7 linked regions of the Homo sapiens genome follow. The protein of the gene in region 7 interacts with the protein of the main gene of each other region in a biochemical or structural test. Each region holds a gene or a part of one and is shown on either strand. Other genes may lie near its edges. The genes, in order: HTR2C, SLC34A1, UQCRC2, XKR7, MARCHF3, RTKN and HTRA3.

Region 1 (3,500 bases), on a different chromosome or scaffold from region 7:
GATTTGCAAAATCTAAAAAGTTTGAAAATAAACTTCATTAGCAAGGCTTTGGGGAAACAGAGGCTTTCTTGCATTGCTGGTGGGAATGCAAAATGGTTCAACTCCTAACTACATGTACCCTTTGATCAATCAACTCCTCCTCTAAGAATTTATTTAGAAGATAAATTCTGAATACATTTGAGCAAGAATTTATTTAAAAGTTAAACTTCCAATAATATGAAACACACACATGCACGCGCGCGCGCACACAAACACACAAGACAGACACACATGCACGCACGCACACACAAAGGACACACACACACACACACACACACACACAATTATTCTTAGTAGAATTATTGGCAACTTCCAAATGTTGGAAACAACTTACCTGATTATACACAGAAGATTGGTTAAATAAAGTATATCAACACAATCTATTATTAGTGAGTGTAAAAAATAATAGAATGAATTTAGCTTTTAATTGGAGTATTTAGGCCATTTACATGATAAAGTTGGGTGCATATCTATCATCTTACAAATTGATAGAGTGATTTCCAGGACATATTTCCAAGTAAAAGAACAAAGCAAAACAAAGTATTAATTTGTATGTAGCATTTTAACTTTTAATTTAAGAATGGAAAAATAACAATACGTGTATTTGTGTATAATCTTTTTTTTTTTTGCAAAAATAAATTCAAGAAGTATGCCCTAGAAACTAATGAATGGGTTAACCACGGAATAGAAGAGGAACTGACTCTTCTCTGAGTATTTTATTTGCCTAGTTTTGACTGTTGGAGCATCATATTAAAGTTTTACATATTAAAAAATAAAGTCAACAAGGTTGGGGAATACATGCAAAAACAAAACAAAATCCCTAAATGTGAACAATTGGTATCAGAACCACAGAGAAAAAAAATTCAAACTAATCCTAGCATTTTGAAGACAATGCTTTGACTATATGCCATTGGTGGAAAACATTCTAAAGATAAAATTGCAATGAAATTTTAAACATTGCATTTCATTTATTGGTAGTGGTATGGGTATAGAAATTCTGAAATTAATTTCTTGTATGGTAGGATATAGAAAATATAAATAATAAATATATCAATGGTTTGGGGACAAAGTTACTCACTGTGAGAAAAATGAGGAAAAATAAAGAATTGGAAAGTAGCAAGAGTCCTGTGTTCGTGAATTGGGATTAAAGGTATTGATATATAGGAGCAATGATATCCTATTAGCAATGAGCATACTGAGCTTCTGCATCCTGCTTTATAAAACCATTGCCCACTAAAAGGGTTTCTTGTAAGAAATGGCTAATTTCGGAACTGGGGCATGGAAAGTAAAAGGTGAGTCTGGCAAATGCTCAAAAGCTGATGGGATATATGAAAAGGAGTTCTTATTAGAAAAATATGAGACAATTTGAGCATCAAAATAATTAAGGGCAATAATGAATCATATATATTACACTGAATACAAAAGAATCCAGGAGTCTCCACCAACATGAACTAATAAATAACAAAGACTTGGAGGGAAAACACTTCCTTACAGTATAATACCAACAAATAAAGGCAGGAAGAATAATAAAATGAGAAAAATTATCATTGTATCACCTTAGTAATAGATAGCTTAGGGAAGAATCATCAATGGATTTGAAATCCATTAGGTCAAAGTTTATTGGGAAACAATTTCTTAATTTCCAAATATACGAAGGTTTTTCTACTATTTTGAAGTCATTTCTATTTCTTTTGAATTTCAGTCAAAGAATAAACAATTTATTCCAACCCTTTGGAATGTGTTGAGGAATTACTTTATGGTCAGTTTTGATAAATATTTCTTGTGCAATGATGGGAATATGTATTCTTCACTTGTCAGTGAGTTCAGGTTTGTTAATTGTTTTCATACAATCGCTGAGAAGGATGTGCTAAGATCTTATGCGATGATTGTAGACTTGTCTATCTGTCCCTGAAGTTCTGTCCTCTTTTACTTTATAATGTATATACTATGTATATTACATATGTATCTACATATAATTATGTACATACAAATTTATTACCTTATGTCTTCCAGATGTATTAAATCTTTCATAGTAAGTAATCTTCTTTCACTGGAGTATTTGTTTTTTGCCGAAAAGTCTATTTTGACAAATATTAATATAGCTATACAGTCTTTCTCTTGGATAGTGTTTAGATGGAGGAATTTTTTTGTTTGTTTTTATCCTTTTACTTTCTTTATGCTTTATATATGCCTCTTGTAACATATAGTTGTCTTATTTTTTTGAAAGCCTATATGACAGTCTTAGAATCCTTAGTAATTCATATAATTAGGGATATATTTGGTTTTAATTCTGCCATTCAGTATACGTTTTATATTTTTCTATCTTTTATTGACTCCTTTTGGATTTATCTTATTATTTCATTTTATCTTTTATTTGTAGAGACAAAGTGTTGCTTTCTCATCAAGGCTGAAGTGTCATAGCACGATCATAGCTCACTGCAACCTCAAGACACTTGAGTTCAAGTGATGCTCCTGCCTCAACCTTCTGAGTAGCTAGGGCTACAGGCACATGCCACCATACCCAGCTAATTTTTAATATTTTATAATAATCTTCTGTAAATTTGGAAATTCGCCATCTCTAATCTGCCACAGAGTTCTTAGGTTTTCATTTTTTAATTAATTAATTTTTTTTGTGTGTGTGACAGAGTCTCACTCTGTTGCCCAGGCTGGAGCGCAGTGGCATGATCTCAGCTCACTGCAGACTTGACCTCTGAGGGTCAAGTGATCCTCCCACCACAGCCTCCCAAGTAGCTGGGATTACAGGCGTGTGCTACCATACCTGGCTAATTTTTGTATTTTTAGTAGAGATGGGGTTTCATCATGTTGTCCAGGCTAGTCTTGAACTCCTGGCCACAAGTGATCCGCCTGCATCGGCCTCCCAAAGTGCTGGAATTACAGGTGTAAGACACTGCCTGGCCCTTAGTTTTTCATATTATGCTTAAGTTCCATATTTTCTAGGTGTTTCTCAAATCTTAATGTCATTTGTTATAGTTTGCAGTTTCTTGCTGAAGTGTTTAAGATCAGCATGTAATTTCCATGTGCACATTCCAAATGATTATTTAAAGTGTATGTCTGATAATTCAATTATCTGAAGTGTTTGTAAGTTTATTTCTGTTATCTCTTATTGTCCCATACCTGATTCATGTTGTATTGTCTCCTCATATATCTGCATATCATTGTATTTCAGTGACAGCATTTGAAAATTATTGAAAGAAATAAGTTGAAATCTAGGATTATGGGGTTTTTTTTGTTTGTTTATGCCCCAAAATTGGAAACCTGAATAATACGAAATCATCTTAATCCAATTTTAAGGCCCAAGATTTCTCTCATTTACATAGATGACTTGAACCAGGGCTGAATTCCATGTCTATGGTGATTTAATCCTGGTCGATCCTTATTCCTAGTGTCTGGTTTTTTTGTGATCCCAGAATTAAATTCAGGTTGGTTGGCCCTTGCCAGAC
Region 2 (3,950 bases), on a different chromosome or scaffold from region 7:
TTTGTTGTTTTTTTTTTTTGTATTTTTAGTAGAGACAGGGTTTCACCGTGTTAGCCAGGGTGGTCTCGATCTACTGACCTCGTGATCTGCCCCCCTCAGCCTCCCAAAGTGCTGGGATTACAGGCATGAGCCACTGCGCCCGGCCAGTGATGGTTAGTTTTATGTGTCAACTTAGCTAGGCTGTGGTACCCAGTTATTCAACCCAACACTAGCCTGGGTGTTCTGTAAGGTGTTTTGTAGATGCAATTCACGTCTACAGTCAGCTGACTTTAAGAAAAGGAGATTATCCTTGGTAACCTGGGTCAGCCTAATCCAATAGAATGAAAGGCCTCAAGCAGAACTGAGGCTTCCCTGAGAAAGGAGAAACGCTGCCCTGTCTGGACTGCAGTGTCGGCGCCCACCTGAGAGTTCCCGCCTGCCCTTCCAATGCCCTGGCCTACGGATTCCTGACTTGCCCAGACAAACTACCATCGGGGAAGCCAGTTCCTTGCCATAAATCATCTGGGTCACATACAGCTACAGTTGGGCTCCTCTCATGTCCCTGGCTGATACAGGAGTCAAGCTGAATGGAGGCCAGCCTTACTGGGGTCACGCTCCCCATTTGCCACCCTTCCCAGCTCCTGGGGTGCCCCTCCAAGCTCTTCCCCACCCTGGTGGGCCAACTCACAGCCAGAGGAGACCATGCTGACGATGATGGATGTGGAGGTGCTGGAGCTCTGCACCAGCACGGTCACCAGGATCCCCACCACCAGCCCGGCCACCGGGTTGGACAGGATGGCGTTATCCTTGAAGATGTCACCAGCCACCTTCCCTGGGGAGCATGAGCCAGCGTTGTCCAAGGCCCTTCAGGAACCCCTCCCAGGTCTCCTCCACCCGGGCCCTACCTCCAGCCAGCTGGAAGGCCGAGCTGAGCATGTCCAGGGAGCAGACGAAGAGGTAGAGGAAGGTGAGCATCAGTGGCACCTTGAGCAGCATGGCGCCAGCCTGGCGCAGCTTGGGGACCAGCCTGGACTCTGGATGGGGGAAGCCATGAGCATAGTGGGCAGAGGCCAGGGCAGGGACTGCTGCCGCCTCTGCCACCCCCAGCCCAGGCCCACCTGGCTTCTGCTCCTCCTCCAGGGCCAGCTTGGCAGGCAGTGGTTCATGGCGCTCCAGGACCTCCCCACAGGGGCAGGTGTGCTCAGCAAGGGCCACAGGGCCCAGGCTGGGGAAGGCATAGGCAGAGGTCCCCGGGATCCTGTGTAGGACTAGGGAGGGAGCCTGGTCAGGAGCCCCAGGGCCCCAAAGTGGGGAGGCGGGGAGGAACAGGCGGGGGAAGTGGCCTCATCCGGGATGTGGGCAACCGTGGGCAACCAGGGTCCAGGGTGTGGGAGCAGCACTTACCCTGAGGGCTGGGCACGTAGGCAAAGGCCGTCCCTCGCATCACATGCCCCCCACGGACTGGGAGTGGGGAGACAGCAGGGGACCCCAGCCTCTCTCCGTAGGACAACATCCTGGGCACCCACTATGAGGTCTGCAGGTCAGTGGGTCTCAGCAACGCTGAATGACAATAGCTGTGTCCGGGACACTCATGCCCACACACCCTCACCTGCACAAACCCCCATGGCGCATGATTCCAAATACACACCTAGCAAAGCACACCCTCCATCCTCACCACACACACACACCCCTCCGAGACTCACACGCACAAACACACACCCAGCAAACCACACCCTCCATCATCACCACCACAGCCCTCCGAGACTCACATGCAGACTCACATGTGCACATCTGTGCTGGGCACCTGCATGTGAGTCTCGGAGGGGTGTGTGTGGTGGTGGTGAGGTGATCATTCATTCACCATTCACTCATTCAATGAGTATTATTGAGCTCTAGCCCAGGCTCCGAACCAGAGGCTTGGATATAGCATTGATAAAAGACACTGAGAACTGAGGACGCCCAGCCTGTTTGGGGCTGGAGGGGGCCAGGGAATACGTGGTGTTGGCAGTGGCTGCAGGTGTGGGCTGGGGCTGGGCCGGGCTTCAGTTTTGCCCACCTGGAGAGCAAGGAGGAGCTGCAGACACCTGCCTTCTCATGGGGTCAGCTGGGCACACACGGAGATCCCCTGGGCCGGATCCCGAGTTCCTGGGTTCCCCTCACAATGAATTCCTTTCCCCATCCACCCCCTCAAGGGGCAATGAACAAACACTGACAGGCTTGCCTCAGCCCCCCCTTGTCCCCGCACTGCCCCAGGAGTCTTGGCTATTGGGGTGGAGTGCCCTGATCTGCCTCAGCACTCCCCGCATTGTCCCAGCGTCCTTGGCTGTTGTAGGGGTGTGAAGAGTTGAATTCAAGTCCTGAAGGAGCAGGAGTCCTTTTTTTTTTTTTTTTTGAGATGGAGTTTCACTCTTACCGCCCAGGCTGGAGTGCAGTGGCACAATCTTGGCTCACTGCAACCTCTGCCTCGTGGGTTCAAGCGATTCTCCTGCCTCAGCCTCCCAAGTAGCTGGGATTACAGGTGCCTGCCACCACACCTGGCTAATTTTTTGTATTTTTAGTGCAAACTCGACCTCAGGTGATCCGCCCACTCGGCTTCCCAAAGTGCTGGGATTACAGGTGGGAGCCACCGCGATTGGCTGGACTGACATGTTATATGGGGCGCGGTGGGGGTGGGCGCAGATAGGACACAGATGAAGGGGCTGGGGTGCTGGGCTGTTTCCTACTCAGAGCTGGGGGTGGGGTTGGGATGTGAGGGTCCTGGGCTCACCTTAGAATTCTGTGTTTCAGCTTCTGCTCAGCAGCTCAATGAAGCCTCCAGGACCCTGAGGAGAACTGAGACCCTCCTCTTTATACTCTTGGGTCAAGGGCAAAGTCCCTGGAACCCTAGCTGCCCTCCCTCTGTCCCCCAATTAACCTCACCCCTGAGATTCCTCCCAGTTAATTGCTAATCGTCAGCTCTGCATGGGGAATCTATGGTCAGGTTCTTCCCATCAACCACGACCCAGACACATCCCCCGCCTGCAGGCAGAGACCCTGATGCCACTCAGCACCTTGTTCCCAGGGTCCCCTCGTTCCTGGCCTGACAGGACTCCCCAGGGAATGACCCAAACATCCTATGGCCTTCGGAGGTTGCAGTGAGCCAAGATCGTGCCACTGCACTCCAGCCTGGGTGACAGAGTGAGACTGTCTCAGAAAAACCAAACCAAACCAAACAAAAACATCCTATGGCCTTGCCAAGCGTCGGGGTGTCTGTAAGTCTCCCAGGGGGAGCTCAGAGGAGAGGGAGTGTGAGATGAGGACCTAAGCTGGAAAGGCCGTGGAATGTTGAATCGTGGCAGGTCTCTAATGCCCGACCATGGGTCCAGGATGTGAGTCTGAGTGAATGTGGAGCCGCTGGCCAGACTGGGATGGGCCTGATCTGCCTTTTAGAATGGCCCCCGGGGTGGAACCCGGATATATGGAAGGGAGCCTGGAAGCGGAGGGGCCAGTTAAGAGGCTAATGGTCCAGGCAGGAGATGATGAGGCCTGAACTCCGATGGGAACGGAGGGGCTGGGGAGGACAGGTGCATCCCAGGGACATCTGACCAGTAGAATTGGTGACGGGGAGGGAGAGAGGAAAAGGAAATAGATGGGAGTCGGGTCTCTGGATCTTTGGCTAGGGCTGGGTTCATGCCCAGGTAGGAGGGTGTCGCTGAGTCACGGAAATGCAATCAGTTCTCAGTTCTTGTGTCAGAATCTCTGGGTCCTTGGGCTTGAAGGTGCTGTTAATGTCACATCGAGTGTCTCCACCTATGAGCAAACTGACACCCCCACAGCGGGCCCAGAGACCCCGGCCCACGTGACCTGTTTCTCTCCATTCCCCCGTGCAGTTCAGACCCTTGGCAGGAGCAGCTGAATCCAAGGTGCTCCTGGTGAACTGGGGGTGTTTCTCCTTTTTAATAAGGTTGTGCTTTTTGATATTTTTGAAGTTT
Region 3 (3,500 bases), on a different chromosome or scaffold from region 7:
CAAGAGCTCTGATGCAGATGTACAAGGAGATTGACACTGTTTTCATGCCTGCTAATAGAACATCCCTTCTGCACCCCATGGATCAAGGAGTAATTTTTATTTTCAAGTCTTATTATTTAAGAAATACATTTTGTAAGGCTACAGCTACCACAGATAGTGAAGACGCTGATGGATCTGGGCAAAGTAAATTAAAAAACTTTCTGGAAAGAATTCACCATTCTAGACACCATTAAGAACATTTGTGACTCATGGGAGGATGTCAAAGTATCAACATTAACGTGAGTTTGGAAGAAGCCAATTCCAACCCTTATGGATGACTCTGAGAGGCAAGACTTCAGAGGGGGAAGAAACTGCAACTATGGTGGGAGTAGCAAGAGAACTAGAAGTGGGGCCTGAAGATGTGACTGAATGGCTGCAATCTTATGATAAAGCTTGAACAGATGAGGAGATGCTTCTTATGGATGAGCAAACAAAGTGGTTTCTTGAGATAGAATCTGCTCCTGGTTGAAGATGCTGTGAACACTGTCGAAATGATAAAAAAGAATATTACATAATCTTGGTTGATAAAAAAGTGGTAAGGTTTGAGATGACTGACTAATTTTGAAAGAAGTTCTGTGGGTAAACGGCTAAAAACAACATCTCATGCTACAGAGAAGTCTTTCACAAAAGGAAGAGTCAATCAATGCAGCAAACTTCACTGTTGTCTGATTTTAAGAAATTATCAGTCACCACCACCTTCAGCAACCACCACCTTGATCAGTCATCAGCCATTAACGTGGAGGCAAGACCCTCCACCAGCAAAGATTATGACTTGCTGAAGATTCAGATAACTGTTAACATTTTTAAAGCAATAAAATATTTTAAAATTAAGGTTATGTACTTTTTTTCCAAGACAAAATGTCATTGTACACTTAGTAGACCACAGTATAGTGTAAACATAACTTTTATATGCACTGGGAAACCACAAAATTCCTATGACTTGCTTTGCTGCAATATTCCCTTCATTGTGGTGGTCTGGAACAGAACCTGCAACATCTCTGAGGTATGCCTATATATTGCAGATATCTACTCCCAGACAGTTACTTAAATTTTTACTTTAAGACATAAAGATGTTTTACAGTTTGATATACTCAAATTCATCAGTCTTTTCCTTCTTATGTTGCTTAAGAAATCCTCAACCTCCTTGATAACAGAGAAAAGTTCCCTTAAAATTGAATATTTTCTGGCATTTTCACTATTTTCTATTACTTATTTAACAAACCTTAATTTGCCACCAACTGCTTCAATTCCACGGGTTATCTTGAAAGATGAAGCTCCTTTTGTCGTCTTGAAAAAGAAAGAATGATTATCTTTGTAGCTTTTCAATGCCAAGTTTGCCAAACATCACACTATATCAAAATCTGTTGTGAGCAGATTTAAAAAGAATTTTACTAAATTCCTGCATCCTTTTTAGTTAAGAATTATAAAACAAGGCTCAACAAAAAGCTTAAGTATACATTTTTACATTAAGTACATTCATGTAAAATTTCCACTGTCAAATACAAGCTTACTGGATTCATTAGTCTATTCTGAAAGAGACTTGTATATGGGAAAAAAAGAGTTAATTTTCTTTCAATTTGCGGCACTTCCTGTTAAAAATTTGTTTACTGATTTCTTATGCTCTAACATCAACATTCATATGGATACTAATTTAGTGCTTCTCTGTGGCAAATATCTTGTGGTTTCTCATTTTACATTAGGGGACAGTACTGGGTTTAACAGTGTTCCCCCCCAAATTTATGTCCAGCCAGAATATTTGCATGTTACTTTATTTGGTAATAAGGTCTCTGCAGATTTAAGTACTTAAGATGACATCATATTGAATTATAGTGGGCACTAAATCTAATGTAACTGGTATCCTTATCAGGAGGAAATGTGGACACAGACAGAAGGAAGGCCATGTGACAACAAAGGCAGAGACTGCAGTGATGCAGTTGCAGGTCAAGGAACATGAAGGGTTGTGGGCAACTGCTGGAAGCTAGGAACAGGCAGGGGAGGATTTGTGCCTTCCTAGAACCTTTAGAGGGATCACAGCCCTGCTGATATCTTGGCTTGGCTTAGACACCTTGACTTGGACTTCTAGCCTCTAGAACTGTAACAGGATAAACTTATTTGGTTTAAGCTACCCAGTCCGTGGTAATTTGTTATGGCAGGTCAAGGAATCAAAATATAAAGACATTGATCTTAGTTTTTCTTTTTCACAGGACCAAGATACCACAGCATTTCCAAACACTTGAGGAAGTGAAGATACTCACCAGACTGGATGTAAGACGCAGCAAATGGGTGGTTCCTAAATTGCTGAAGTCCTCATATCTACTGCCTGCTTTAATGAACAAACCAATTCTTGATACAGGAGAATAGTTTTCCAAAGAAGCAATCACCAAGCCATTTGGTAACTTGGTAAACTGTATTTAAAATAAAGTAGAGATATAATGAATGTCTTCGTATTACCAAGGAGAGTAAGGCATGTATAGCTTCCAGCGAGCAAGTTAGTGGGACTAACCTCAAGGTCCTGAGGTTGTGGCGGTGCTCCTGCAGGCGCAGCTGTGGCTTTAACTTTGGGGGCAACTTTGAGGGAATAAAATCTCTAAACATAAAAAACACAGGTTACACGTATTTCTCACAAGAACAGTGCTTTATATAAAAGCATGGTATCTTAGGGTACCCAAGCGACAGAGGGTGTTCGGGGGTGGAAGGAGCAATAACCACCTCCATGGGAGGATTTACCTGCATAACATTTTTTTTTTTTTTTTGAGACAGAGTGTCTCTCTGTCGCTCAGGCTGGAGTGCAGTGGCGCAATCTCAGCTCACTGCAACCTCTACCTCCTGGGTTCAAGCCATTCTCCTGCCTTAGCCTCCCAAATAGCTGGAATTACAGGTGCGTGCCACCATGTCCAGCTAGTTTTTGTTTTGTATTTTTTAGTAGAGATGGGGTTTCACTGTGTTGGCCAAGCTGGTCTTGAACTCCTGATCTTAAGTGATCTGCCCACCTTGGTCTCCCAAAGTGTTGGAATTACAGGCGTGAGCCACTGCACCCCGCCTAGCTGCATAACTTATTATGGACTTACTAACCCACCAGTTTACCCAAGCCATTCTTAAACCTCTATTTATTAGTGATTTATAGAGTTCTTGATGCTTATTTTTTAAATGATGTAAAGAATCACTGTATTTTCTTATCTTTCAGTTACCTTATAAAAGTTTCATGGTTCTGTGTAGTTCTAAAGCTTTGGCATTTTTTGAAAAAGTGTCAGATCACCCCATCCACAACCTTTTTTGTTGAGTTGGAGTCGTGCTCTGTGTCCCACGCTGGAGTGCAACAGTGCGATCTCGGGTCATTGCAATGTCTGCCTCCTGGATTCAAGCGATTCTCCTGTCTCAGCCTCCCAAGTAGCTGGGATTACAGGTACATGCTGCCACGCCTGGCTAATTTTTTGTATTTTAGTAGAGATGGCGTTTCACCC
Region 4 (3,979 bases), on a different chromosome or scaffold from region 7:
AGGATGCCCCCTCTCTGAGCCTCCATTCCCTCATCTGTCAAGTAGAAATTATAATGCTAACCACATGACAGGATGATTAGAAGGGGTACAGGAAATAAAGCAGGTAAAAAGGCAACCAGTAGGCTTGGCACAAAGTCAGTGTTTAATAAAATAATTGTTATAGAACTGTAAATTAGGGCTTTCATGTCTAAGTGAAATAGTACAGATATGATCAAAGGGAAAGATGGACAAATTAGAGCACATAGACTCTTTCTAAATTGTTACAGGATTGATACTGCTAGATCCAATTTTTTTAAAGGGAAGCTACGACTCTGGGTTTTTAAAATACTATGCAAGCCACACAAAACACTTCCACAAGCCACATTCAACCTAAGAGCTATTAGATTGTTATCCCTACAAACTTATCTCATCCCAGCCTCCTCATTTTGCAAATGGGAGATAGTAGAAATAGCTAGTCCTTTTATCCATATCCAAGAAACCATAGAGCTGAGGGGATCCTTAGCAATTCTAGCTACTCCCCTGGGACCCCACACCCATGGCCATTTTTGCCCTATTTGAGGGAAACTCAGTTTATGCTTAACAAAGAAGAGAAGTATTAGTTTCTTGTAAGTGGATTCTGAATGGGGGGATAGCCAGTGAGTCGAGGGGCATCTGGCCCACTTTAGGCTGAAGGAAAAGGGGGATGAAGCTTCCTACCAAGAATAGGAAGTTACCATTTCAGAATCTAAAAATATCTTTCACCATCTGTCCACTCGGGCACAGAATGATAAATGCAGATTAGTTCCTGGATGTAGACATGAATATTTTTATGTGTCACGCTAATAATAATAACACCACCTTGTGTGGATAGAGCTCCGCCCCCTTTTCCTCCAGGATAAGCTAAGTGGAATATACACATCATCTTGGCAGGAATAGATAGGGAAACAAAGGCAGAGAGATTCGACAACACAACAAGAGTGACACAGCAAGTGAGCAGCTGGGACAAACCCTAGGAGTCCTGTTTTCAACCCTCAGCCCCAAACTGAATCTTCTGAGTTAGGCAGAATGTGTTAACAAGTAGCAGAATAAATATAACAACAGCAGTAATCACCCTTTATATCTCTAGAGTGACTTTTTCCATGCTTTCCCCACACTCTTAAAATGTTACAGTCTGCAGGGCCCTCATGCAGACCTCTCACCTGACCATCCCAACAGGTAAGAATAATGCAATGATAAGACAATGAGATAAGAGGAGTAGGGATTCTCCCTCATTTCACAGAAGAGGAAACTGAGGCTTGGAAGGAGGAGGGCGGCTTGCCTAAGATCATATAGTAAGCAAGTTCATTCTGTTAGAGCACAGAAGGGCCTAAGCTACTAAATAGCAATTCAGATTCAAGAGGAGCCCTAGGTTTAGAATTCCTCCTCTCTCCACTTAACTCAGTGCAGCAGGCACCCTCAGTTCTGGCAGAGGAAGAAGACTGAAAGTGGGCAGCTTGAACAAAGCCTCAGTTTTGCCTTACCAGTTCGGGATTAAAGGGCAGCCAGTGGCCATCTAATCTCAGATTCAAGATTCCAAATCCCCTTGGCCCTGTTGGAAGGGGAGGACCCTTAGCTGGGGGAGAGGGGGTCATAGGAAGTAGAAGGAGCCTGAGGGCTCCCCAGTTGGGTCCAGCATATCTTTCTCCAAAAAGTCCAAGAAGTTTAGGCGGGATATTCATTTAGCTGTCTCAAATTCTGTGACTCTCCTTGCAGGTTGTGAATGAGCTGCAATTCTGAACTGAGGATCTTTGCGAGCAGGAAAGGACTTCTGAGATCTTTCCTGAGCCCAGGCTTGGCACTCAGGCAGAGAGGAGTGGGTTATGGCAGAATAGGGCCCTGTGGTCCTGTTTTAAGCTTCACATTTATCTTCATGAGCCCCGGGTCCTCCCCACTCACGCACACCCCTGAGGATCTCTTTCTCTCCTTTCTTGAACCATCCCCTCCCCTCTCGAAGGCCAGGTCAGACCGGATGGCACTGGGGTTGGTCAGGGCTTGGGGGCAGAGGTCAGGGAGAAGCCGACTGAGAAGAAATTAGAGCTGCAATGGGGTGGGGAGGGGGGGAGGTCAGGACAGGAGGGTAGCCCGGAAAGGTCAGATCAGGGCTGGGACGTCAGGTAGCCCTTCGCCACCCCCACTCCTCGGGCTCAGGTCCCTCCACCTGCGCTTCTCCTACCTCCAGACCTGGCCGAGCTGCAGGAGGTGGACGAGGGTCTGCAGCAGCCAGATGCAGAGGCGGCAGCAGCGGCGGCGGTAGGCGCTGGCCGAGGAGGGCGCAGGCTGGGGACCCGGCTCGGGGCTGCCTTCTTTGGTCCGGAAGGCGCCGGCGCTGTCCTTGGTGCTGATGGCGGCTCCGCCGGCTACGCTGTCCTTGGTGCTGACGGCGGGTCCCGGGGACCCTGCGGGCTCCGAGTAGTCGTAGACGAACCAGCGGAAGCTCAGTAACTGCACGACCAGCGAGGGCAGGAGCACGAACAGCAAGGTGAGGCTGAAGTAGGTGTGTTGATTCTGCAGGTAGTAGGAGGCCGCCAGCCACAGGTCCGTGGCACCGTCGGAGAAGAACACGAGCAGCGCGCACAGCACCCAGCAGCAGTCCCGCAGCTCGTAGCGCGGCCCCGGGCCGCCCGCCCCGACGACCCCCGGGGGCCCGGCCGCCGCCGCCGCCTCCCCGCGCCCGCCGGCACTGCCCCGGGCTCCACCGGCAGCCCCCTCCGGGTCCGGGCTGGCCGAGGCCGCCGCTCCATCCGACTTCGCGGCCATGTTGGCGGAGAGGGAGGCGGGGAGCGACTTCCGGGCGGCGGAGGGGGGTGCGGCGTGGGGAGGACCCTGCGCGGGCGGCTCCTCTTCCTCCTTCTCCTCTTCTTCCTCCTCCCCTCCACTTCAATTATTCATTCTCCTCGGCGCCGCCCCGCCCCGCCCCCACCCGCCTGAGCTGCGGCCGAAGGGGGGGCAGCCCCCGGGAATGCGGAAGCAGGGGAGGCGGGGCGCACCCCAGGTCACCCTCTCCCTCCTTCCTCGGAGGCGCGGGGCTCCAACCCCATGCTTTCTGTCTCTCATCTCCCCTCGGACTGCACTTCCTTCTTTTTTGTTTATCGCCTCCCCCTTCCCATTCTCTCCACTTCGTTTTTCTCCTGTGTTCACCTCCAGTGGCCTGGGTCTGACGGGGGGGTGGGTGGGGGACTTGGAAGAAAGGAGCTGGGGGACTTGGGCGGGCCCCCCAGTAACCCTTTAGCAGTCACTCCATGCTAACGCTCATTTCCAGTTTCCTGAGTGCTCACATATTGTTCCATCCCCTCCTTTGATCTTGAGGGGTCCCCTTTTCTTATTGTCTTCGTTTTGAAGCTGAGAAAGCTGCAGCTCTGAGTTGCTGTCTCTTCCTTACTCTCCGCTTTCCCTCTCTCGGGGACTGCCTTCATCTGGCTACAGCCCTAGTAGAGTAGGGGGAGGGAAGGGGACAACATCCAACATCAAGAGGAAAGGGATGGGAGGAAACACCGGGTGGAGGAAAGAGCAAGTGCAAAGGCCTGGAGGCCTGAGACTGGAGGGCATATCTTCAAGCAAGTCTGGATCTCAGATCCAGGGGAGGAGAAAGATGGGGAAGATAGGGCTGCAGAGTTCTGAGGATGAGATCCTAAGGGGCCAGAAGGTGGCCTTTATCCAGCAGGCAATGGGGAACCACTGCAGTATTTGAGCAGGGGAGTTATGTGGTCACATCAGGATTTAGAAAGAAGACCCAGCAGCCAGAGTAGAGAAGCGATCACAAGGAAGCAGCCTGGGGCTGGTGAGACCAGAAGGAGATTATAGCAGTAACCTATGAGAGGGGGTGGAGTTCCCACACATCCTGGATACCCCAAGCTCATTTCCCATCTCTGCCTTTGATCAGATTGGATGTATCCAGGCATTTATTATACAAACATCCATATAGTAGTGTCTCTTTGCCTGGCACTGTCCAAAACACTACAAT
Region 5 (3,173 bases), on a different chromosome or scaffold from region 7:
GATACTGTATGGAATTTTCTGAACACCTCTTTAACGTATGAGGAAGGTTGTCCTGCTACGGATGCAATTCAATTCTTCCTTTTTTATTACTATTTCAAACACACACACATATATATATATATTAAACTTAGATGATAATCAAAATCAAAAAGTCAACGTAAAAACTGGTTTCTTGGTTTGGTTGGGTCTTATTTGAGTTAGTTTGTTTCTCAGTTTCTCGTATGGATTCTTTGGGGTACTTTGGTAGCCTGAGTGGTCTTTTTCATCTCTTTCGCGTCCATTACTCAAGGAGACAGCATAACAGATGCAGAACAAGTCATATTTGAAGAATGTTTTGTACTAAACTTCATTTAATTATTCAGTTTTTAAAGGGAAAAAGGGCGTGAGCTCACACAGTGAGCTGTTTATTTAAATATCATTAAGGAGAAAAAAAAATATGGTGAGAAGCTCGCTCCTTTCAACTTGTTTGGTACTGACAGCTGATAGAAGCTATTTTCTAATAATAAACATCCAGTGTGTGAAAGACAAAACCCACTGATTGCAATACTCTTTTTTTAATGATAAAACCTGTGAAGTTTCCCAAAGCAGGTTTTAAAAGGAAAAAAAGGAAAAGCAAAAAGGTTGCTGTTCTCACTCCCATCTCATTTAGTGCATGTCTTAATTCGGGATTCGTAATGAATTGGAGGATCATTAGACATTTCTAGGAACCCTAGACCTGTTTTGCATGTCAATTAGCATTCCCATTGCTCTATTGAATTTCTAGCTTGACAGGTAGATGTGGCAAAAAAAAAAAAAAAAAAAAAAGCCTGTCCTAGCAGCCCTGCACTTATTCTAAGACCCCTTTGTCTGATTCTTTAAAAAGGAGCCCCACACAGTGCCTTCCCCCAACCATGAGCCAATTCTGTCACAGTCCGAAATAGACTTTTTCTAAGGGTTTCGTGTCCCTCTTTTATCCGTCGCAGTGTAAAGGGTCTGATCCGCAGCCTGCATTGTGCGCGCACCGAGGCAGGAGCGGATGTCTTCTGAGGAGAGCGCTGGCTGGGGTTGACTCTCAGGCTCCCGGCTGTCCGCCCGCCCACACGCAGCGAGGAGGGGCGGAGCCCTGCTTCCGGAATGCTTAAAATATGGAATTCTAGAACATGACCCACATTCTGAGTATCACTCCAGCATCTGCCTTGTGTTCCAAGTGGGAAAACGAGAAGTGCAAAGGAACAGGCAGCGAGGAGGGTAGCGATTTTTGTCTGCAAATTGATGGAGCTGATGCAGGTGTCCCCTTTGTAGGCGAGCCCTCCATTCACTGGCTGCTCCCAGCGCTGCCTGGGGAGGGAAACAGCTGTACTGCTCTCCGCTGCAAAACTCAGATGTGCTTTATGGCTTGTGACAATAGATTTCCTCCCCACCACGCTTCACTGGGACACTTCAATTCCAGTAATATATGTCTCAGCCCTTCTGTTTACTGCGCCCTGCTCACCCCCCTGGGCTGTCATTAGCTGCACCACCATCAACCGTTTCTTAATTGACCTTTTTAAAATGCTGGACATCACCGGCTGCACGCAGCTGCCACACATTAAATTTCCAGAGCAAAGAGTCCAACTTGGTAGCTGGTGAATTGCAGCCCTGTAATATACTTAATAAATGACGTCCACCCAGCCTTAGTCCCTGAGCTGTCAGGTGAACCCGTGACACGTCTCAACTGAATGGCACAACATTCATGAGAGGACCATACCCCTTCTCCCTGTTTCTTGCATGAATTAAGGAAGCAGCGGATTTCCAGGATGATTTCCTGTCAAGGTTGGCTGCAGAGAATTCCTGCCATCTTGGTTCATGAGATGAGATATGACATCATCAAAGGCAGCCAGGTCCCAGGCCGTTCAATGGGGATCCTGCATTAGGAAGGGTTTGCACATTAAAACTGTGCCTGTGCCACACCTCTTTCCTTCGTGTTTGCATCCCTGCCCTGTGAAGTAAAACAGAGTCCAAGATGCAAGGAGTAGATTGTGTGTGGGGTGGTGAAAGGACACCCCTGGCAGCCAGGCAGAGCATCAGTGCCTCCCTTCCCAGGTCACCAGCTTGGGACCTCCTTGTGAGAGGCTCTGATCTCCATCAGCATCAGGGCCCATAGGGGATTCTGAACTCTTGGAGGATATTTCATCCCCTCCAAGCCTTGCCCCATGGAAAGGGCTACACCTCCTGCAGGAAGGGGTGCCTTTTGTTAACAGGTATTAATGGGTACAGAGGCACCATGCAGCCTACCAGCACCCTTGCTAGCCTAGTCCTCTTCCTGTGCTTCTTTTTGAAAGATCAAGAATGAAGAGGAAGAGATGAGGAGTGGGGGTCCTTTACCTAAAGGACCCTCGTGGTTCATTGCTTCTCTTTAACTGACTTTTTAAAAAAACTCCCTCTTCCACACTCCTTGCTGTGATTCTGTCCTAATCATTTTTCTTGAGAATGTCATGTAGAGATAAATGTGTGTCACAGTGAAGCCAGAAGGTGAATTAACAACTAAGACAAATCCAGCATGCTCTTGCCTGCCCTGCATATGTGCTCATTTGGGGAAGGACGGAGGACACAGAGCATCGACACAAATTCTACAGCTCCTCAGAGAACACAGCAGAGACTCAGATGAGCTGTAAAATCCATTAAGGAAAAATAAATGGCATGATTTGGAAGTTACTTTGATTTGTCTTTCATTGTCCTAGTCTCCCCTGCCCCTAGTGCCTGGGCCCTGCCGTGGATTGTCACTTTCAGTGGGGCTGTAGCCATAGGCATTTCATTTTCAGTGAAAATAATTCATCTGCGGCATGGAGGAGCCAAAGGAGAAAATGGAGGTGAAATCGCAGCCCAAGTGACCCCACAGTTGGGCAAGCAGCCAGCTTCCGGTTCCACTTCCTCCTAGATCCTTATTGTTCCCATTGGGACACTGACCCTGGCTGGGCTCTGGGTCTGCGCCTGCACCGTGCATCTTTCTCCCATATTGGAATCCGCTCAGCCTTGCCTGACACTCCACACAGCTTATGGAGCTGTCCACACTAGGAAATGACCCATGGCCCAAAGAACCTGAGTAGGAAAGACAGCTAGAAAATGAAATCAGGAAATGCTTCCTTTCCACTTCAATCCAGAGTGTTCCTAGAAGCTGCCTGAAGATCTGCCACACAACTTGTAGTCCCTAGTGC
Region 6 (3,500 bases), on a different chromosome or scaffold from region 7:
ATGTCAGTGTTGCTTACATTTTACATCCAGAAGCTGAGCCCTTTTAGAATGCACAATCTAATTTGTTTGAATGGGTAGGCTTTCCTTAAGTGGTTTCTTATTTCCTTTCCCACTCCCTGCCTCTGAAGGTGAACCCCAGATATAACAAACTATTGTCAGTATGTGGTAAATTGGTGATTTTGTGAACCAGCGTTGAGGAAATTAATTTTCCAAAAGCCAGATAGCCAGTCTTACTGGATCACAGACAGGGCTTAGCAAATTAGTGCTTTTGCATTACTTGCTACCCTTCAGATCAGCTACCTTTCACCAGACACACCGACTTTTCTAAGTCCTGCCCTGGCTACTCACAAATGCGCCTCTGGGCAACACACAGTGGTGGTAAAACACCAAGGTCTCTCCCAGGTCCCTGATAAGACTTCATGGGGAAGTCATCTTTAAGGTGGTCCACATGCCACACACGCACATGCTGCACCACCACCACCCAGAAGGCCTCCTGCCTCCATCGAGGCCTCGTCTCCCCCTTGCTCACCGCCGGCTTGTCTTCCCCAGCACCTGCGCCTCCTTGCGCCGCTGCAGCTCGCCCATGTAGCTGAGGATGCGGCTGTTGCACACTAGCAGGCTCTTGGTGGCCTCCAGAGCCTGCTCTCGCTGGGAGCAGGCTGCCAGCAGCTTACAGGCCCCTTCCCTCATCCGGATCTCATGGTCTAGCTTCCTCTGCAACTCCGTGTCCTAGCCAGGGTTGGGGGAAGGGTGAGAAGGAAATGTCAGTCAGTGGACAGGCTAAAGCACTCCCCAGTCCCCAGGTGGGCTGTGGCCAGTAAAACTGACAAGAAACTAATGTTTTAGGCAGTTCAAGAGCAGGCATTGGGTCTCAATCTCAGCTGCCCACGAATAACCAGAGAAGCTTTGTAGCCAGGTGCAGTGGTGTGTGAGGGAGGCTGAGGTGGGAGGATCCCTTGAGCCTAGGAGATCAAGGCCAGCCTGGGCAACATAGTGAGACCCCACCTCTAAAAAAATATATAACAGCCGGGCACGGTGGCTCACGCCTGTAATCCCAGCACTTTGGGAGGCAGAGGCAGGCGGATCACAAGGCCAGGAGATCGAGACCATCCCGGCTAACACGGTGAAACCCCGTCTCTACTAAAAATACAAAAAATTAGCAGGGCGTGGTGGCGGGCGCCTGTAGTCCCAGCTACTTGGGAGGCTGAGGCAGGAGAATGGCATGAACCCGGGAGGCGGAGCTTGCAGTGAGCCGAGACTGCACCACTGCACCCCAGCCTGGACGACAGAGCAAGACTCTGGCTCAAAAAAAAAAAAAACATATATATATATATATAAAACAAATAAGAAAAATAGAGATGCCCTCATGCATTTGATGGTTGGAAGTATAAATTCCTTCAGCCTCTTTTGAGTGCAATTTGGAAAAAAATCTATGAAAACTACAAATTCATATATCCTTTAATTCAGCTATCCAATACCTAGCAGTTTATCTTACACATATAATTTCACATATATCTAGGTAAAGCCATACATACAAAAATATTCAGTGCGGCATTTTTTTTTTTTTTTGAGACGGAGTCTCGCTCTGTTGCCCAAGCTGGAGTGCAGTGGTACGATCTCAGTTCACTGCAAGCTCCACCTCCTGGGGTTCATGCCATTCTCCTGCCTCAGCCTCCCAAGTAGCTGGGACTACAGGCGCCCGCCACCACATCCGGCTAATTGTTTTTTTGTATTTTTAGTAGAGACGGGGTTTCACAGTGTTAACCGGGATGGTCTCGATCTCCTGACCTTGTGATCCGCCCACCTCGGCCTCCCAAAGTGCTGGGATTACAGGCGTGAGCCACCGCGCCCGGCCTCATTGTGGCATTGTTTTAAACACCAAAATTAAAACCCCTTCAGTAGGACATTGGTTAAATAAGTAACAGTACATCTGTACCCTGTAGTATTGCAGACATTAAGGAAAGAGATATGCACATGTATGCAGATATGAAACAATCTCCAAAATAAATGATGTGAGAAAAGAAGGGTAGTATTGCACATACTACCATTTGTGCATGATATATATATATGTATGCATGCATATATATACATAGATATAGATATGCATGTTTATGCATAAAATATTAGTGATTGTAGGCCTGGGAGCCAGGGATGGAAAACATTTATGATACTTTTTTTTTTTTGAGACCGAGTCTCACTCTGTCACCCAAGCTGGAGTACAGTGGCGCGATCTCAGCTCACTGCAACTTCCACCTTCCAGGTTCAAGTGATTCTTGTGCCTCAGCCTCCTGAGTAGCTGAGATTACAGGCATGTGCCACCACGCCCGAGTAAGTTTTGTATTCTTTTTTTTTTTTTTTTTTGAGACCGAGTCTTACTCTGTTGCCCAGGCTGGAGTGAAGTGGCATGATCTCGGCTCACTGCAAACTCCGCCTCCCAGGTTCAAGCAATTCTTCTGCCTAGCCTCCGGAGTAGCTGGGATTACAGGTGTGAGCCACCACACCCAGCTAATTTTTGTATTTTTAGTAGAGACGGGGTTGCACCATGTTGGCCAGGCTGGTCTCAAACTCCCGACCTCAGGTGATCCACCCGCCTTGGCCTCCCAAAGTGCTGGGATTGCAGGTGTGAGACACCATGCCTGGCCTAACTTTTGTATTCTTAGTAGAGACAGGGTTTCGCCATGTTGGCCAGACTAGTCTCGAACTCCTGGCCTCAAGTGATCCTCCCACCTCGGCCTCCCAAAGTGCGGGATTACAGGCTTGAGCCACTGCGCCCAGCCTAATGATACTTTATATATACCCTTTGTACTACTGGAAATTGTATTTCCTTTAAAAAATATTAGATCTTTGGAGTTTAAAAAAAAATGATCAGGCCCTACCTAAGATTTGCAGAATAAGAATCTCTAGGAGTGGGGCATATGTACTTTTGGAAAACTCCCCAAGTGATTCTGAGGTACACCCAGGTTGAGAACCACCAACTCATGGGAATGGACAGAAGGAAAGGCAAATGAGAGTTATCCCTCAGACTCAAGTGATGCCAGGGACATCTAGTTGGCAAGGGATCAGTGGACAAGGAGCATACCACCTACAGTGTTCACTGACGCTGCACAGAAACCTATACACCCCAAATTAAGAGAATCACCACCTACCGGCCCTCTGAGCTTGGGAGATGAGGTCAGAGGCAAGGAATGGGGATGGGAAGGTAGGTGGTCCAGGAATGAGGGACTGTGGATAAGGGCCAGCTGAGAGGCCCTGGAAGAGACACCAGGATTCTCAGGAACATTCATTTAGAAAGGAGCCCTGGAGGTCCTGCTTCTTAAAAAGCAATGGGCAATTTGCTCAACCTCCCTAAGCCTCAGTTTCCCCATCTGTAAATCAGGAATGGAAATAGTCCTAGGGCTGTGAGAATTCTGTGAGGCAGGAACTTAAAGCACTTAGCACAGTGCCCAGCATGTGGTATACATTAATGGCAGGGATGCTTATTTTAATGACGCTATACTTTG
Region 7 (3,500 bases):
CCCGCTTCCCTATTGACCGACTCCACTCATTCATTCATTCTTTTACTCATCCATTGGACACTCACTCATTCCCTCCCTCACTCATTCATTCTGCCACTTCCTTCACTAACTCATTCCTCCCCTCACTCATCCATGCACTGATTCGTGCGTTCACTCACCCATCCCTCATTCCTCCCCGCTCCGGCCACACGGGCCTCGGTGCTTGCGAGCTGCCCCCACTGCCCTGCATCCACTGGCCCAGCTCCCGGGGTGCCTACTTCAGGCTTAGCTTGTGAGGCCTCCCGAGCCCCCGGTTCCCACTGCCCCGAGCCCTGCTCTCTGCCTGCCATGCCTCTGCTCCTTGCACACACACCTGCTGTCTCCTGGCATCTCCTCCGCTGGGTTCTGTCTGTGTCTGCTTTACTGCACGGCCCCTCAGGACGACCAACACATTGCATGTATCCAATAGCATGGGCAGCAGCATGAAGGGACAAAGACCCACAGCTGTGCACCTTCTTGGTGCCTACAGCTCCAGCAGGTGCGGAGTCACTTCAGCGGGGATGTCCTTCCCCAGGGGCACACAGGCAGCCAGCAGATGTGACTGAGGTCAGCCTGACCCCAGGCCACTCCAGTTTCTGTGGCCCAGGCTGCAGAATCAAGCCTGGTTTGGGCCCCAGCAGCTGGCGGGTGTACCAGGGGACACCAGGAGGCAGAGAGGGGCGAGGGGTATTCACCCACCTCAGGAAGAGCTCTATGTGGACCACGGCTGGTGCGATCTTCTCCACCACGTCAGCAATGAAGTTGAACTTGTAGCGCGGGCTGCTCAGCTGGTGGAGACCTGCGCTGGCGGGAAGGGCCAGGTGCATCAGTGAGATCACGATGCTGCCAGCTCCCAGAGGCCTATGCCCAGTGGGCAGAAGGAGGAGGCTCTTCCTGAGACCCCTGTCCCAGTTCAGAGCCAGCCTCAGCCCACACTGAGCCCGTTGGGGACCCCCTACCACACAGCAGTGCAGTGACACCAGGCATTTGGGAAGGGGCTCGCTCACCCCGAGAATGGTTAAAAAGGCTTCCACGTGCTGGGCTTCCTCACCCCCCTCACTGGACCCTGCTAGGCTGGGCAGGAGGCTCAGAGAGAGGTTAGGATATTGCCGTGAGCCACACGGGAGTGAGGCCAGGGCTGGATCTCGGGTTAGTCCCCCTGGGCCTTGTCTGTTCCCTCATGCTACAGCAATACCCTTACAGGAGAGAACTGGCCCTCTCCTCATGGGCTCCAGCTGGTCCCTCCGAGCCCTGGGGCTACAGCAGTGTCCAGGCGGGGGTGTAGTGGAAGACCCCCAGGTGACCCTTCTGAGCTACCCAGGCCCGGACACAGTGTGGCCCCTCTGGGCCAAAAGAGCTGCCAATTTCTGAGTCCACAGGGCCCTACATCTGTGTCTAACTTGGCCACACCCCAGCCCGACTTGCTAGATGGTTCACGAACTTCCCTGGACCCTTCCCGGGCTCAGATTCCTGCTGCCGTCAGCAGTAGGGGCTGTGGCTGCCAGGACCACAGGCCTGAGGCATGCAGTGGCACGGGGCCCACAGCCCTCGGGGTTCCCTGCACGGGCCTGTGCCGGGCTCTCTCCAGTTCCCACCATCTGGAACACATGCTGCTCAGCCTCGCTCGTGGCTCCCGAGCCCCGCAATGAGCAACTGGGCTGGGGGCTGCACACACCAGGGGTTCGGCTGGGCCTGGCTGCTTTCTAGCTGTGTGGCCTCAGACAGATTACTTACGTTCTCTGGGCCTCAACTCCTCATCTGAAAAATGGGACTGAATATGCCCTCCTACCACATCTGTGGGAACTGAGTGTGGAGGACTGCAAACTTCGAGTCCCTGCCCGGGGGGCTACCCACCCACCCAGCCACCTTGGCAATGGGGAGCAAAGAGGGCTCAGTCCATAACGTCCAGCTTTCCAGCTTTGCAGCCCACATTTCTCTTGATCTCTGGGAAGTGGCCGGGCATGGGGACCGAGGGAAAATCTGGTTTTCTGGATCGTCCAAAGGCACGAAGGTACCATGGTGGATGCCACTGTGGGGGCAGGGCCCGGGCCGCGGTCCGTGCTCTAGGAATCATCACAGGGCAAACACAATCCCCAGGCACATCCCAATTCATTCACCCAACTCTCCAGGGGCAGCCAGGGGAAGGAAACTTTTCCTCTATTTTAAAGGTGGGGACACTGAGGCTCTGTAAGAAGAACCCCCCTGCCCAAGGACTCACGGCTGGGAGGGGAGAACCAGGATCTGAACGCAGGCCGCAGGCCTCCTTTCCCTGGGTGCCCCCACCTCTGCCCTGCAGCTCCCCAAGGCCCTGAAGAGCCCTTTAGCCTGAGCTGGGACCTAGGGGGTTGGCTCGAGCTCTGGTGTTGGGTCTCCCAGACTTCCGATGTCTGCCTCTCAACCGGCCCGCAGGCACCAACCACACCAGCCCTCGTCCACTTCAGTCAGCCTGAATCAAAGGCCACCTGTCTGGGGTGGCTAGAGCCTGGCTGGGAGACGCCGGCCACCGCGAGGCTCCTCATAGATCAAACCACTGCGGCAGAGCGGGGTCTCAGGTTCAGAGGTCACATTAACAAACACCCCAGGGGCAGGGCCTGCTGTGGGCCCAGGGCTCTCTCTGCCCACGTTTGCTTCCATGAGGGATGCGCTGCCCTGCTCGACACCTACAAAGCAGGCGGCTCCCTTGGTGAGGTGAAGCTGCCGTGCGGCCCGAGTGGGCAGCCCAGGCCTGTCTGCTTCTCCTCCCTGCCCCTGGGAACTTGAGTTCATTTTCTAGCACCCAAGTAGAGAGGAAGGACACCAGCCACAAAGCCTGCTTCCCTGGTGAGGTTTGGAGCTGGTTCAGAGCTCTCACAAGATGCGCTCAGACCCACAATTTCCACGACCCAGAGGGATCCCAGGGCAACCCCCAGGCCCAGGCCCTCCTCCCTCCAGGAGGGAGGACTCAGCCGGTCTGCTGCTCCCCTGTGTGCCCTGGGGCCTGAGGCTGGCGCCCCATGTGCCTCGCCTGAGGAGAAGCGCCAGGGCACGGGCACAGCCCCCAGGTGGGACCATATTACCTCTCCTACCGTGTGGCCTTTGTCGGGCCACCAACTCCAGTTTCTGCTCATCATCCACCTCTCTACACCTCCCCCTGCACGACCTCTCTCTACTCTCCCTACCAAGATGCTCTGGTTGGTCCTGGGCCCGGCCCTAATCCTGCCTCCTCCAGGCAGCCCCGCAGCAGCCCCAGTTGTACCGAATCTGCCGCTGCTCACAGCCTTATTCAAGCCACTCGTGCAGGGTGCCTCCTGTGTGCCCACCTGTGACAGCTGCTGGAGACACAGTGGTTCAGCTGGGGGCAAGGGTCAAGTCAGTGACCGACCAGAGACAGCACAGCATCACCAGGGATGAGGCAGAGAGGAGCCCGGCGTGGGGTGGGTGAGTGCAGAGGTGCCCTGACCCAGGCCTGGAAGAGCCCACGGGCAGGGGCACAGCACATGGAA

The links.
Region 1: the proteins of HTRA3 (region 7) and HTR2C interact in a test that uses a peptide from one of them, tested with the Homo sapiens proteins (one large-scale study listed by IntAct).
Region 2: the proteins of HTRA3 (region 7) and SLC34A1 interact in a test that uses a peptide from one of them, tested with the Homo sapiens proteins (one large-scale study listed by IntAct).
Region 3: the proteins of HTRA3 (region 7) and UQCRC2 interact in a test that uses a peptide from one of them, tested with the Homo sapiens proteins (one large-scale study listed by IntAct).
Region 4: the proteins of HTRA3 (region 7) and XKR7 interact in a test that uses a peptide from one of them, tested with the Homo sapiens proteins (one large-scale study listed by IntAct).
Region 5: the proteins of HTRA3 (region 7) and MARCHF3 interact in a test that uses a peptide from one of them, tested with the Homo sapiens proteins (one large-scale study listed by IntAct).
Region 6: the proteins of HTRA3 (region 7) and RTKN interact in a test that uses a peptide from one of them, tested with the Homo sapiens proteins (one large-scale study listed by IntAct).

Annotation. Positions count from the first base shown.
Region 1 is NC_000023.11:114,849,586-114,853,085, reverse strand, and holds part of HTR2C (5-hydroxytryptamine receptor 2C isoform a precursor), read right to left. Parts: intron 1-3,500. UniProt on the Homo sapiens protein: G-protein coupled receptor for 5-hydroxytryptamine (serotonin).
Region 2 is NC_000005.10:177,383,284-177,387,233, reverse strand, and holds the start of SLC34A1 (sodium-dependent phosphate transport protein 2A), read right to left. Parts: upstream 2,801-3,950; 5' UTR 2,747-2,800; intron 1,540-2,746; 5' UTR 1,493-1,539; coding exon 1,384-1,492; intron 1,248-1,383; coding exon 1,098-1,247; intron 1,014-1,097; coding exon 885-1,013; intron 812-884; coding exon 668-811; intron 1-667.
Region 3 is NC_000016.10:21,956,361-21,959,860, reverse strand, and holds part of UQCRC2 (cytochrome b-c1 complex subunit 2, mitochondrial precursor), read right to left. Parts: intron 2,627-3,500; coding exon 2,543-2,626; intron 2,445-2,542; coding exon 2,295-2,444; exon of another isoform or gene 2,277-2,294; coding exon of another isoform or gene 2,244-2,276; intron 1,327-2,243; coding exon 1,262-1,326; intron 1-1,261. UniProt on the Homo sapiens protein: Component of the ubiquinol-cytochrome c oxidoreductase, a multisubunit transmembrane complex that is part of the mitochondrial electron transport chain which drives oxidative phosphorylation.
Region 4 is NC_000020.11:31,966,972-31,970,950, reverse strand, and holds the start of XKR7 (XK-related protein 7), read right to left. Parts: upstream 2,801-3,979; 5' UTR 2,776-2,800; coding exon 2,192-2,775; intron 1-2,191.
Region 5 is NC_000005.10:126,867,214-126,870,386, reverse strand, and holds the end of MARCHF3 (E3 ubiquitin-protein ligase MARCHF3), read left to right. Parts: 3' UTR 1-2,673; downstream 2,674-3,173. UniProt on the Homo sapiens protein: E3 ubiquitin-protein ligase which may be involved in endosomal trafficking. E3 ubiquitin ligases accept ubiquitin from an E2 ubiquitin-conjugating enzyme in the form of a thioester and then directly transfer the ubiquitin to targeted substrates.
Region 6 is NC_000002.12:74,431,938-74,435,437, forward strand, and holds part of RTKN (rhotekin), read right to left. Parts: intron 730-3,500; coding exon 530-729; intron 1-529. UniProt on the Homo sapiens protein: Mediates Rho signaling to activate NF-kappa-B and may confer increased resistance to apoptosis to cells in gastric tumorigenesis. May play a novel role in the organization of septin structures.
Region 7 is NC_000004.12:8,279,754-8,283,253, reverse strand, and holds part of HTRA3 (serine protease HTRA3 isoform 1 precursor), read right to left. Parts: intron 818-3,500; coding exon 718-817; intron 1-717. UniProt on the Homo sapiens protein: Serine protease that cleaves beta-casein/CSN2 as well as several extracellular matrix (ECM) proteoglycans such as decorin/DCN, biglycan/BGN and fibronectin/FN1.